Linked DNA regions of Homo sapiens: region 2 is linked to region 1. The links come from fine-mapping of genetic effects on gene expression. Tissue or cell type: B cells. Region 1 holds a variant in brackets; the other region holds the start of a gene. All regions are shown on one strand. Distances are from middle to middle. Region 1 overlaps MGST2 (microsomal glutathione S-transferase 2). Region 2 holds the start of MGST2 (microsomal glutathione S-transferase 2).

The links. PIP is the estimated chance that this variant, and not a neighbour inherited with it, causes the effect.
Region 2: MGST2 starts here. The variant in region 1 is the best candidate, but not a certain one, in a credible set for the expression of MGST2 in B cells (Fairfax 2012, PIP 0.62).

What each region holds. Positions count from the first base shown.
Region 1 is chr4:139,687,535-139,692,910 of GRCh38, forward strand. All of the region lies in intron 2 of MGST2 (microsomal glutathione S-transferase 2), which reads left to right. Among named protein-coding and RNA genes, the nearest start is that of MGST2, 24 kb to the left of the region's middle. RefSeq lists an enhancer at 5,068-5,117. The variant G/C (reference allele first, on the strand shown) is at 2,494.
Region 2 is chr4:139,663,836-139,669,211 of GRCh38, forward strand. It overlaps MGST2 (microsomal glutathione S-transferase 2), which reads left to right and starts at 1,984. Exons shown (of 5, transcript NM_002413.5): 1 at 1,984-2,242. The coding sequence starts at 2,185. RefSeq lists enhancers at 1,543-2,742, 2,039-2,208.

The DNA.
Region 1 (5,376 bases):
TTCCCTTTGCCTCTTTGGAAGGACTTAGAGCTTAGAGGTCCAGCCTTTTCCCTACCCTTTTCTCCTGCTGATTTTGCCCTCAGCATAGCCAAGAAGCCCAAAGTTATGACTAATTCTATCTTTAGGTGGACCTGGACATCTCATCAGCGTCACTTCAAGGTTCACTGATCCTAAAGGACTGTTTCTTGTTGGAAGGTCATCTCAGGGTGGGTATCTATTTGTGACCAGAGCTGATATGGAGTCCAGCCTTTCTGAGTTACTAGCCCTGGGCTCCTTAAAATCTCCATTCACTTCCTCTTCCCTTCCTTACAGGAGAGGACTTACAGATGACAGTCTCTAGAGTCTTGCCGTCTTTTGCCAGAATACATTTTTTAAAATTGTGAAAATAGCAACTATAATTTCACCAAGGACCATTCCTTTACGTTATTACTGAATTTAGAAAATTCTATCTCATCTAATCTGAGCACCTTGATCCCTTTAGAGTAAAGTCATTTTATAAAATCTAAAAAGTAGATCCAAGTAATAAATTGATTTTCTTGCAATTTAAATACATTTCCTCTGATTCTACCTTCACTGGAAGGGGAGAATAGCTGCTGACCTCACTCCTTTTCATGTGCTGAAAGACCATTATTAAGCATCTTTCATCTTCTGGATTTTGAGGCTAGGGAGCACTAATTCTTCAGCTTTTTTTCTCCAACCATTTAGAAATTTTGGTTCTCTTTAGACAAAAATTTTTAATATTATTTCTAAACCTGGAGTCTAGATGTATATCTAGTATACTAATAATGGTTTCTTTGGTGCTGGTTAAGACAGAAGAATTGCTTCTTAGTTCTTGTGAATGCACTCCTATTTGCTTAATGCTGAATTATTCAGTTCCTGTTCCAAAATTAACCTGCCACAAGGCACAGGTAAGCCTGATCATCGTGAATCTCGGTACCCTTTAGAAATATTAGCCTCTTCTCATTCTACTGTGATTCTGTATTTTTTTTTTTTACATTTTATTAACTTTTTAATGTCATTTTGAATTCTGATTCTGAAATTTGGAAATTAAAACTAGTGACCTTAATGCATGTCTAAAAACTATGGAGAAAAAGAAAATTTACAAGAATAGTGATTTTTCAGGTATTGTGCAACTATAAGATTACAGTAATGTGGGCAACTGGCTTTTGTAATAAGTGGAAAAAAAAGAGACAGTAAACATATTCCTGTTTTCTTACAAGTGTAACCATCATGGACAATAGCAGAAAGCACTAGATGCCCTTATCCACTGAATTATTATAAAGGGCTGGGGGCTGGGCGCAGTGGCCCGTGCCTGTAATCACAGCACTTTGGGAGGCCAAGGTGGGTGGATCACTTGAGGTCAGGAGTTCAGGACCAGCCTGGCCAACGTGATGAAACCTCGTCTCTACTAAAAATTACAAAAATTAGCTGGGCGTGGTGGCACATGCCTGTAATCCCAGCTACTTGGGAGCTGAGGCAGGAGAATCATTTGAACCCAGGAGGCGGAGGTTGCAGTGAGCTGAGATCACACCACTGCACTCCAGCCTGGGTGACAGAGTGAGACGCCATCTCAAAAAAAAAAAAAAAAAAAAAAGGGATCTCCCAAAATGACAGAGTGACTCTGTGTGATGAGCTCCTCAAACTCCAGTGTCCTTACCAATACCAAGCAGCATCTGTCACATAATCCGGGAGATTCTCCAGGTGGTCAGGGGACAAGAGGGAGCTGGGAGGTGGAGGAACTGCAAATCTCCTTTCCCTGCATGCTCTTTGTGTTCCCTACAAGCAGCACCACTGAAGGGCAGTGGTGGGACTCATGCTCTCCTGCCACCAGCCGCCACCTCCCTATTGTGTCCCACTCAGAGTTACTTGACAAGGAGCAATTTAGACAGTTACACGTCTTTATAAAAAGATTAACTCCAGCAACCTCTCATCCCCAAGCCTTTTCTGAGCATATTAACCTGTTGCTCTGATCCCAGTCAGTGTAATCATCCAAAAGACCGCCCAGGGTCCAAAGTCAGAAGACCAAGGCCGGGTCATCCATTCAGAGTGCAAATGGCTCATGGCAGTGTACAGCCCACTGGTTCAGGATGAGTCACCTAAACAAGAAGAGAAAAAATCAGAAGCAAACAGAAAACCTGCAAGAAGCAAACTTCCTTTGAATTGCTTTGTCTGTTTTTATTTAGAAAAAGATCTACTGTGAACCTGGCATTAGAAATGGCTCATGAGGTTTTCCTTAGGAGAATGTTTCATATTTTCTGAACAAAGTTGTTGCAAGCAAAGTTGCATATTGTGTTCGTTGGACACGGTCAAATAGAGAAATATTCATAAAAAGTTTTAGGCCAGAAGTCTCCCAAGTGATGTGCCCACATTGAAGGAATACACTAAGTAATCCACTGTGAGGGTGAGGAAAATATTGGAGCATCTGTTTATACTTATTCTTAAAATCCTATCCTTTAATTAAAAAAAATTTTTTTTGAGACAGAGCCTTGCTCT[G/C]TTGCCCAGGCTGGAGTGCAGTGGTGCGATCTTGGCTCACTGCAGCCTCCGCCTCCTGGGTTCAAGCGATTCTTCTGCCTCAGCCTCCTGAGTAGCTGGGACTACAGGCACGCACCACCATGCTCAGTTAATTTTTGTATTTGTAATAGAGTCAGGGTTTCACCATATTGTCCAGGCTGGTCTTGAACTCCTGACCTCAAGTGATCCACCTGCCTCGGCCTCCCAAACTGCTAGGATTACAGGTGTGAGCCACCGCTCCTGGCCTTAAATTTTTTTAAAAAAATTTTATTTTTTTATAGAGATGAGGTCTCACTGTGTTGCCCAGGCTGGTCTCAAACTCCTGGCTCAAATGATCCTTCTGTCTCTGCCTCCCAAAGGCCCGGGATTACAGGTGTGAACCAGCTTCCTGATCCCCCATCCTTTAATTTTTATGATGTTTGTTTTATAATGAATATGATATTCTTTTCCAGTTGAATGTATTAGCTGTGCTAATGGATAAATCCCAGATTCTCCATGGTTTAACACAGTGGAAGTTCATGTCTTGCTCAAGTCTGGTCCTATGTGGGAGCTCCTGGGTGTGGGCCTCCTCTGCTGCAGGAGGATGTGTGCATATTTTTATGGGGCTGTGCAACTGTTAGAGCTATGCAATCAGAAAAGTTTGGAGACTAGTGTTGAAGGAACTGCCACATTTGGAGCTGCCAGGCCACAGTTTGATTCTTTTTCCCACCCCCAAATAACATAAACTTTGTAGTATACTTATTGACTGAGACAAGGCCCAAATAGCACTTAGTTTGGGCCATCCTTACTGCTCCTGGTTACCAGATCCAGGTGGGAATGTGCAGTAGTCCTGAGCCCCCAGGGCCCAGGCTCCATGGTACTGGGATGAACAACAAGGGGTCTCAGCAGCTTTAACTACTCAATCTCCACAGTGCCCACCAGACTCTTTCCAGTTCTTCTGGGTCTTACCCAGTTTTAGCACTTAAAGCTCCATGTCCCCCTAAATTCCTCAGTCCCAGGCAAACCAAGATAGCGTTCATGGGAAGCTTCAATATCAAAGGAGCAGGGGATTGTTCAAAGAGGGCTCTCGCCAGGGAATGAGTATACACAGCCTGTTTTCCCATGGACAGCCTGTTTTTCCAGTATGGACATGCAGAGAGGAGACAGTGGTCATAATCAACTCTACCCCCTGTTCTCACAGGAAGGGAAGATTGACAGCTACTGCAGGCTGTTTGCTGTTCCATTTGGGAAATTTTCCTGAGGATCCCCTGTAATAAGAGGATAGAATATATCTGCCTTCATGACTTAAAAGAGGCTATAAATTATTTTCATGTCAATGAAACTGTAATTAGCCACTGACAGGATTGTCAAGAAGTAATTTTCAGAGTTTGGTCCCCTTGAGTTAAACATGCCTGCTGACAGCTTACTGAGGACGTGTTATTGTGGGACACCATCCAGGCCTGGAGGGACCCAGAATCAGGCAGAAGGACATGGTCACATGGTGGAGGGGCTGGAGGAGGTGACAATTAGCAGGTAGAATGGGATTCCAGGTATTTCAAGGCCAAACCAATACTTGGTGCTTTCACCAGGCAGGCAGCAGGGAAGACTGTCAGCAACAAACAGGGCACCCCACTGGCAGTCAGATGATGATGATGATGATGATGATGATGATGATTATTATTATTATTATTTGAGACGGAATCTCACTCTGTCACCCAGGCTGGAGTGCAGTGGCGTGATCTCGGCTCACTGCAAGCTCCGCCTCCTGGGCTCACACCATTCTCCTGCCTTAGTCTCCCGAGTAACTGGGACTACAGGCACCCGCCACCACGCCCGGCTAATTTTTTATATTTTTTAAGTAGAGACGGGGTTTCACCGTGTTAGCCAGGACGGTCTCGATCTCCTGACCTCGTGATTTGCCCACCTCGGCCTCCCAAAGTGCTGGGATTACAGGCATGAGCCACTGCGCCCAGCAATTATTTTCAATCTCTGAGAGATGATAGCAAGAAATGGGCAAAGTCTCATTTCCAAGGGACTAAGGCTTGAGGCAGGTCAGCAAAAGAGGGACCAGGGTGAAAGTACAATGAGCACAGCTGGGACGTGAGGTTGGGGTGAGCTCAGCAGTGACCAGCCACTTGTAGGGGACAAAGGGCCTATTTCTTGAGAAAGAAAGGTACAGAGATATGGTGCTGAGCTGCTCCAGTACTCCAGGTGTTGCCATCCTGTGAGCACAAACGCAGCTGCAATCACATCCTTGCCTAAATCTCAGTGGCTTCCAGCCACCTGCTGCTCACCCAGGATCCCAGCACCCCGGTTCCCCATCTTCCCAATTCCTTCTGGGAATACAGGGGATGTGCCCAGGGACACAGCTCCTGCTGGCAAGCAGCTGAAGCAAGGGGCTATGCCACTGTCCTGCTCCCCAGTCCTCTGTGAGTACAATACCCTCCCCAGGTTCTGGAGTGCCTTCCACCACCACCAGGAGCTGCTCTGGGTCTGTGGCAGAGGGAGATTAAGGGTGTGACTCTCCCCGACTTTGTCTCTTCTGTCATCTGAGGCATGGCACCACTTGTATCTGGAATCTCACCAAGTTTTTCATGAGGACGATCCGTCAGCATCTGTTCTGGTCTCTGGTTTCCCATTAGGTGTGAAACTAGTTCCCTAGCTTGTGAGGGCAGCAGGGGAACTCCAAAACATCCCCTCTATTTTTATTTCCTTTCTCCTTGCTCAAAGGCCTTCTTCCTCTTTCAGATAAGAGACACAAAAGCACACATGCCTATCAATTTATGTGGACAGACACCCAAAGGGCTTCTGCCCTCTGCAGTGCAGTTTGGACTTAGGACATTCTTACACAATATTATCTCTTTGTCCCCAGATGCCAAGCCAAGG
Region 2 (5,376 bases), 24 kb before region 1:
TGCAACTATTTATAAATTAATTTTGTTATTCCTTCTTTCCTGTATATGTGTAGTTCCATGAATTCTACTTTGAACTGGTTATAACATCTTACTGGTTCCCTCATGAATGAGTTACATAAAAATTTTGATATGTTTTCATTTTATGTTGTATGAAAGGCATGATTTTTGCCTCTGAAAGTATTTTTTAACATTAGGTACATTATATGCTAAGTACTTGTCTAGATACTTTATGTGTTTATTTTGCAGACACACAGAACACATTTGTATATGCCAGGTGCTGTTTTAAGTGCTCTATAAGTATTAACTAATTCAATCCTTAGAATAGGATTATGTCATTTAAACTTCTCTTCAGCTCTTATTAGCCCTATCTTATTAAATGGAGGCTCAGAGAGGCCCAAGGTTGTGTTATTAAATTGTAGGGTCTGTGTGAGGCTGAGGCAACTGCCCTCCCCAGAAGACACTGGGAGCTCCCTGCTAGGGACTAAATGTTTGTGTCCCCTCTGCAATTCATATGTTGAGACCCTAACCCCCAACGTGATGTTATCAGGCATTTGGCAGATAATTAGCTACAGGTGAGGTTATGAGCATAGGCCCCCATAATGGGATCTGTGCCCTTATAAGAAGTGACCAGGAAGCTTACTCTTTCTCTGTCTCCAACATGAAGGTGTCCTTCTGCAAACCAGGAAGAGGGCCCTCACCAGGAACTGATTGGCCAGCACTGTCATCTTGGACTTCCCAGCCTTCAGGACTGTGACGAATAAATTGCTATTGTAAGCCACCCAGTCTATGGTATCTTTGTTATAGCAGCTTGAGCCAAGATATACCCTCTAATGGTGCTGTAGGATGGGGTGAGGAAAGGCCCCCAGCTCTGGTTTTTGGGAAGCTGCATCTTTATTTTTATTATTTGTTTGAGACAGGGTCTCACTTTGTCACCCAGGCTGAAGTGCAGTGGAACGACCTTGGCTCACTGCAGTCTCAGGCTCCTGGGTTCAAGCAATCCCCTTGCCTCAGCCCCCTAAGTAGCTGGGACTACAGGCACGTGCCACCATGCCCTGCTAATTTTTGTATTTCTTTAAGAGATGGGGTTTTGCCATGTTACCCAGGCTGGTCTCGAACTCCTGAGCTCAAACCATCTGCCCATTTCAGCCTCCCAAACTGTTGGGATTACAGGCATGAGCCATCCTTCCAGGCCAGAATCTGCATCTCTAAAGAGCAGATTCTCCTGCCTCAGCCTCCTGCGTAGCTGGGACTACAGGTTCGTGCCACCATGCCCAGCTGATTTTTTGTATTTTTAGTAGAGAAGGGGTTTTACTGTGTTAGCCAGGATAGTCTTGATCTCCTGACCTCGTGATTCACCCTCCTTGGCCTCTTAAAGTGCTGGGATTACAAGTGTGAGCCATCGCGCCCGGCCGGTTTATTTTTTTAAAAATGGCTGGGCACAGTGACTTGTGGCTGTAGTTCTAGCTACTTGGGAGGCTGAGGCAGGAGGATTACTTAAGCCCAAGAGTTGGAGGCTGCAGTGAGCTATGATCGTGCCACCACACACTCCAGCCTGGGTGACAGATCAAGACCCTGTCTTAAAAAAAAAAAGTATGATTATTATCAGAGTCTCTAGGTGACAGTGAGAGGCAGCCTGGTGCAGGGGATAGGGCACAGTTGTAATCTGCTAGACTGGGTTCAAATCCTAAATCGGCCATTCAGAGCGTGAATACATTAGAACTGGCTTAAATTAGCATTTAAAATGTCAACAGGATTAAGTAAGTAGTTCCTTCTCACTTTTTCCACAGGAGGTGAGAAAGGTCTCAGCAAGGCCCTAGGAGGGAAGGGCGTGGGGATGAAAGGGATCCAGAGAGTCTGTGCATTGGCAGAGAAGATAGTGTAACTGGCACTGCGGCTGGAGGGCTGGTCCCACAGTGAGCTACAGCCCTGCCCGCTGGCCGTGGGAGAGGCTTAAAACAAACGCCGGAAGCAACTCCCAGCCCCATAAAGATCTGTGACCGGCAGCCCCAGACCTGCCTGCCTTCCTGACTTCTGTTCCAGAGCAAAGGTCATTCAGCCGCTTGAATCAGCCTTTTCCCCCCACCCGGTCCCCAACTTTGTTTACCCGATAAGGAAGGTCAGCATTCAAAGTCAAGAAGCGCCATTTATCTTCCCGTGCGCTCTACAAATAGTTCCGTGAGAAAGATGGCCGGGAACTCGATCCTGCTGGCTGCTGTCTCTATTCTCTCGGCCTGTCAGCAAAGTAAGAGGCATGGGAAGTTCGTGTGTGTGCGCGTGTGTGCGTGTGTGTGTGTGTGTGACAAGGCTTGCGGGAGAGAGAGGGAGGGAGGGAGATGGGTCCGGTGTTTTGTTTCCTACTTGCCCTTGCAGGTAGCTCTGGGTCCTCAGAGCACAGTCGCCTCAGGGTCACCCATGCCGCCTGCTACCCTCCTTCCCAGGGGCAAGCAGAGACTGAGAACATTCCAGAGATTAGTTCTCCCAACTGGAACGCTGTGGGGCCTCAGAGCTCAGCGATTCTGCATCATCTGTGATTACGACCCACAGCCCGTTCAAACGAGCGTTAGTAGCCTGCTAACCTGCAGGAAGTGGTGTGAATATTAATTACAAGTGTTCCAAAGGAAACGTGCCTGCTTCTAAACCTGGTTGTGATTTCTTGAACGTTGATGTTTTAATTAATGTGTTTTCTTAAATAAACTGCCTATGGTGGTATGATTATCAGATTGAAAAAAACTTCCTTCAGAAATATTAGCTTTAGATTAAGTAATTAGCTCTAAATTTTAAAACAGCTTCCCACTAGGATTATTCAATATCTCGACTGCCTGGTTAAATAGAGGGCTTTTACTCCATGGGAGTCACATTTGCTCAATTCATATTATCTTACCTACAATGTCAGCTGGGGAAAGGGGTCCGAGTGCAAGAGTGCAAGACTTCTTACCAAGCATGCATATTTCTTTATATTTCCAAGTATGCCTGTACCAGGAAATAGGGCCAAGCCGTAGACTGCTCAGGTTACACAAACAGCCAGAAGCAGGAAGGCCTCACAGCTGAGGATCCAGTCCAGGCCTCCGTGCATGCTCAATGTCTTGCCTAGCCAGTCTGTTTTGAGATTGTATGAAGATCTTGAACCTTCAGACTCACGTTTTGTGGTTTGATTCACACAATCTGTTGTGGAGAAGAGCAGGATATTTGTTTCTAATTAAAGAAGCACTTAGATCTGTTAAAAGGAAAACCCTAGACAAATTACATTTAACTGAGTTTAATTGAGCAAAGAACGATTCACAGTTGGGCATGGGGAACCGGAATAGGTTCAGAGAGACTCTGGGGCTGCCACGTGGTAGAAGAAGATTTATGGACAGAAAAAGGAAAGCGACTCCCAGAAAACGGAAGCATATAGTTCACGATGTACGGAGAAACCTTTAGGCTGAACTTAAAATATGTCAGAAGGCAGCTTTAGGCTAAACCTAATTTAGCAGGTCTAAGGCTCACTGTTGGTAGCATCCTGACTCACAGGTGCTACCAAACCTGCATGCGCCTTTATCCTAGGCCTGCAGGTCCACAGATGTCCCAAAGCTGACAGAGGTGCTCATCCTCCCTGTTTGCTGCTTGTGCAGGGGGCTGTGTGAACTGGGGCCAGAATGTTAGGGGGCTGGATGGAGTGGGGGTAGGGGTGGGGAGAGAGGAGAGGAGACTGGGTGAATGATGATTAATGGTGGACAGGGAATGTTTAATGACAAGGTGTTAGGGCCGGGCACGGTGGCTCACCCCTGTAATCCGAGTACTTTGGGAGGCCAAGGCAGGTGGATCACGAGGTCAAGAGATCGAGACCATCCTGGCCAACATGGTGAAACTCCGTCTCTACTTAAAATACACAAATTTGCTGGACATGGTGGCACGCTCCTGTAGTCCCAGCTACTAGGGAGGCTGAGGCAGGAGAATCGCTTGAACCTGGGAGGGGGAGGTTGCAGTGGACTGAGATCACAGCACTACACTCCAGCCTGGCAACAGAGCGAGACTCCATCTCAAAGAAAAAAAAAAGATGTTGATGAAGAGTTGAACTTTGTAAAATAATTGAAAAGCTGTATTCTGAGCCAAACATGAGGGACGAGTGGCCGGTGACACAGCCCAAGGAGATTCTAAGAACATCTGCCCAAAGGGGTCTGGCTACAGATTGGTTTTATACATTTTAGGGAGACATAAGACATCAACCAATTCATGTAAGATGTACATTAGTTTGGTCCCAAAAGGCGGGACAACTGGAAGTGGGGCATGGGCTTCCAGGTCATAGGTGGATTTAAAGATTTTCTGATTGGCAATTGATTAAAAGAGTTTATCTACAGACCTCAAATCCATAGAAGGGAGTGCCTGGGTTAAGATAAGGGGTTGTGGAGGCCAAGGTTCTTACTATGCAAATGAAGCTTCCAGGTAGCAGCGTTTGGAGAGAATAGATTGTAAATGTTTCTTATGAGACTTGAAAAGGTGCCAGACTCTGTTAATTCTCTCCTGGATCAGAGAAAAGACCTGGCAAGGGAAAGGGATTTTCTACAGAATGTAGACTTTCCCCACAAGAGACAACTTTGCAGGACCATTTCAAAATATGACAAAGAAATATATTTTAGGGTAAAATACTTCAATTTCTTTCAAGGCCTGCTATCTGTCATGTGATGCTATACTGGAGTCAGGCTGGAATTTGGTGTCTTATTTCTACAAAAAGTCTTAAGTGTTAGATTTTTTAAAGGGAAGGTGGGGTTCAAGAAAGACACAGAGAGAGAGAGAGAGAGAGGAGGGGGAGGGGGTAGAGGGGGAGAGGGAGAGAGAGAGAGGCTTTACAACAACACAGGTTTATTACAAAAACCTGTGGAGGTGGGGGACCAGCTTAATGCCAGAGCCCGCCATTGCTTACAGGCTGGGGTATGTACAGGTATGGGCAGGAGGGTTTTGGGCAGTATGGCTTGCTGCCCTGGAGGATATTGATAAGATGTTCTTATGTTCAGGTGGTTTGGCCAGGGATATTCCTTGGGCTCTGTCAGGATTTGATAGGGATATTTCTTCAGTTGGGTCTTTGCTTGGCAGGGTATGATAAAGATGTTCCTGTGTCTTGTGGTCAGGTGGCTAGGCAGGATTTCTCAGGGCCCGAACCCCCATGGAATGTTTCACTTTGACAAAGGCCTGTGAAATGGCAGGGGGCTTACAAAATGGTGTAGTTTGGACTAACATTAAGGTCTGTTTCAATGTTAATGCTGGTCAGTTATGCCTGAATTCCAAAGGGCGGAGGATATAATGAGGCACATCTGACACCTTTTCCCCATCATGGCCTGAACTCGTTTTTTAGGTTAACTTTGGAATGCCCTTGGCTGAGAGGAGGACTCCATTTAGATG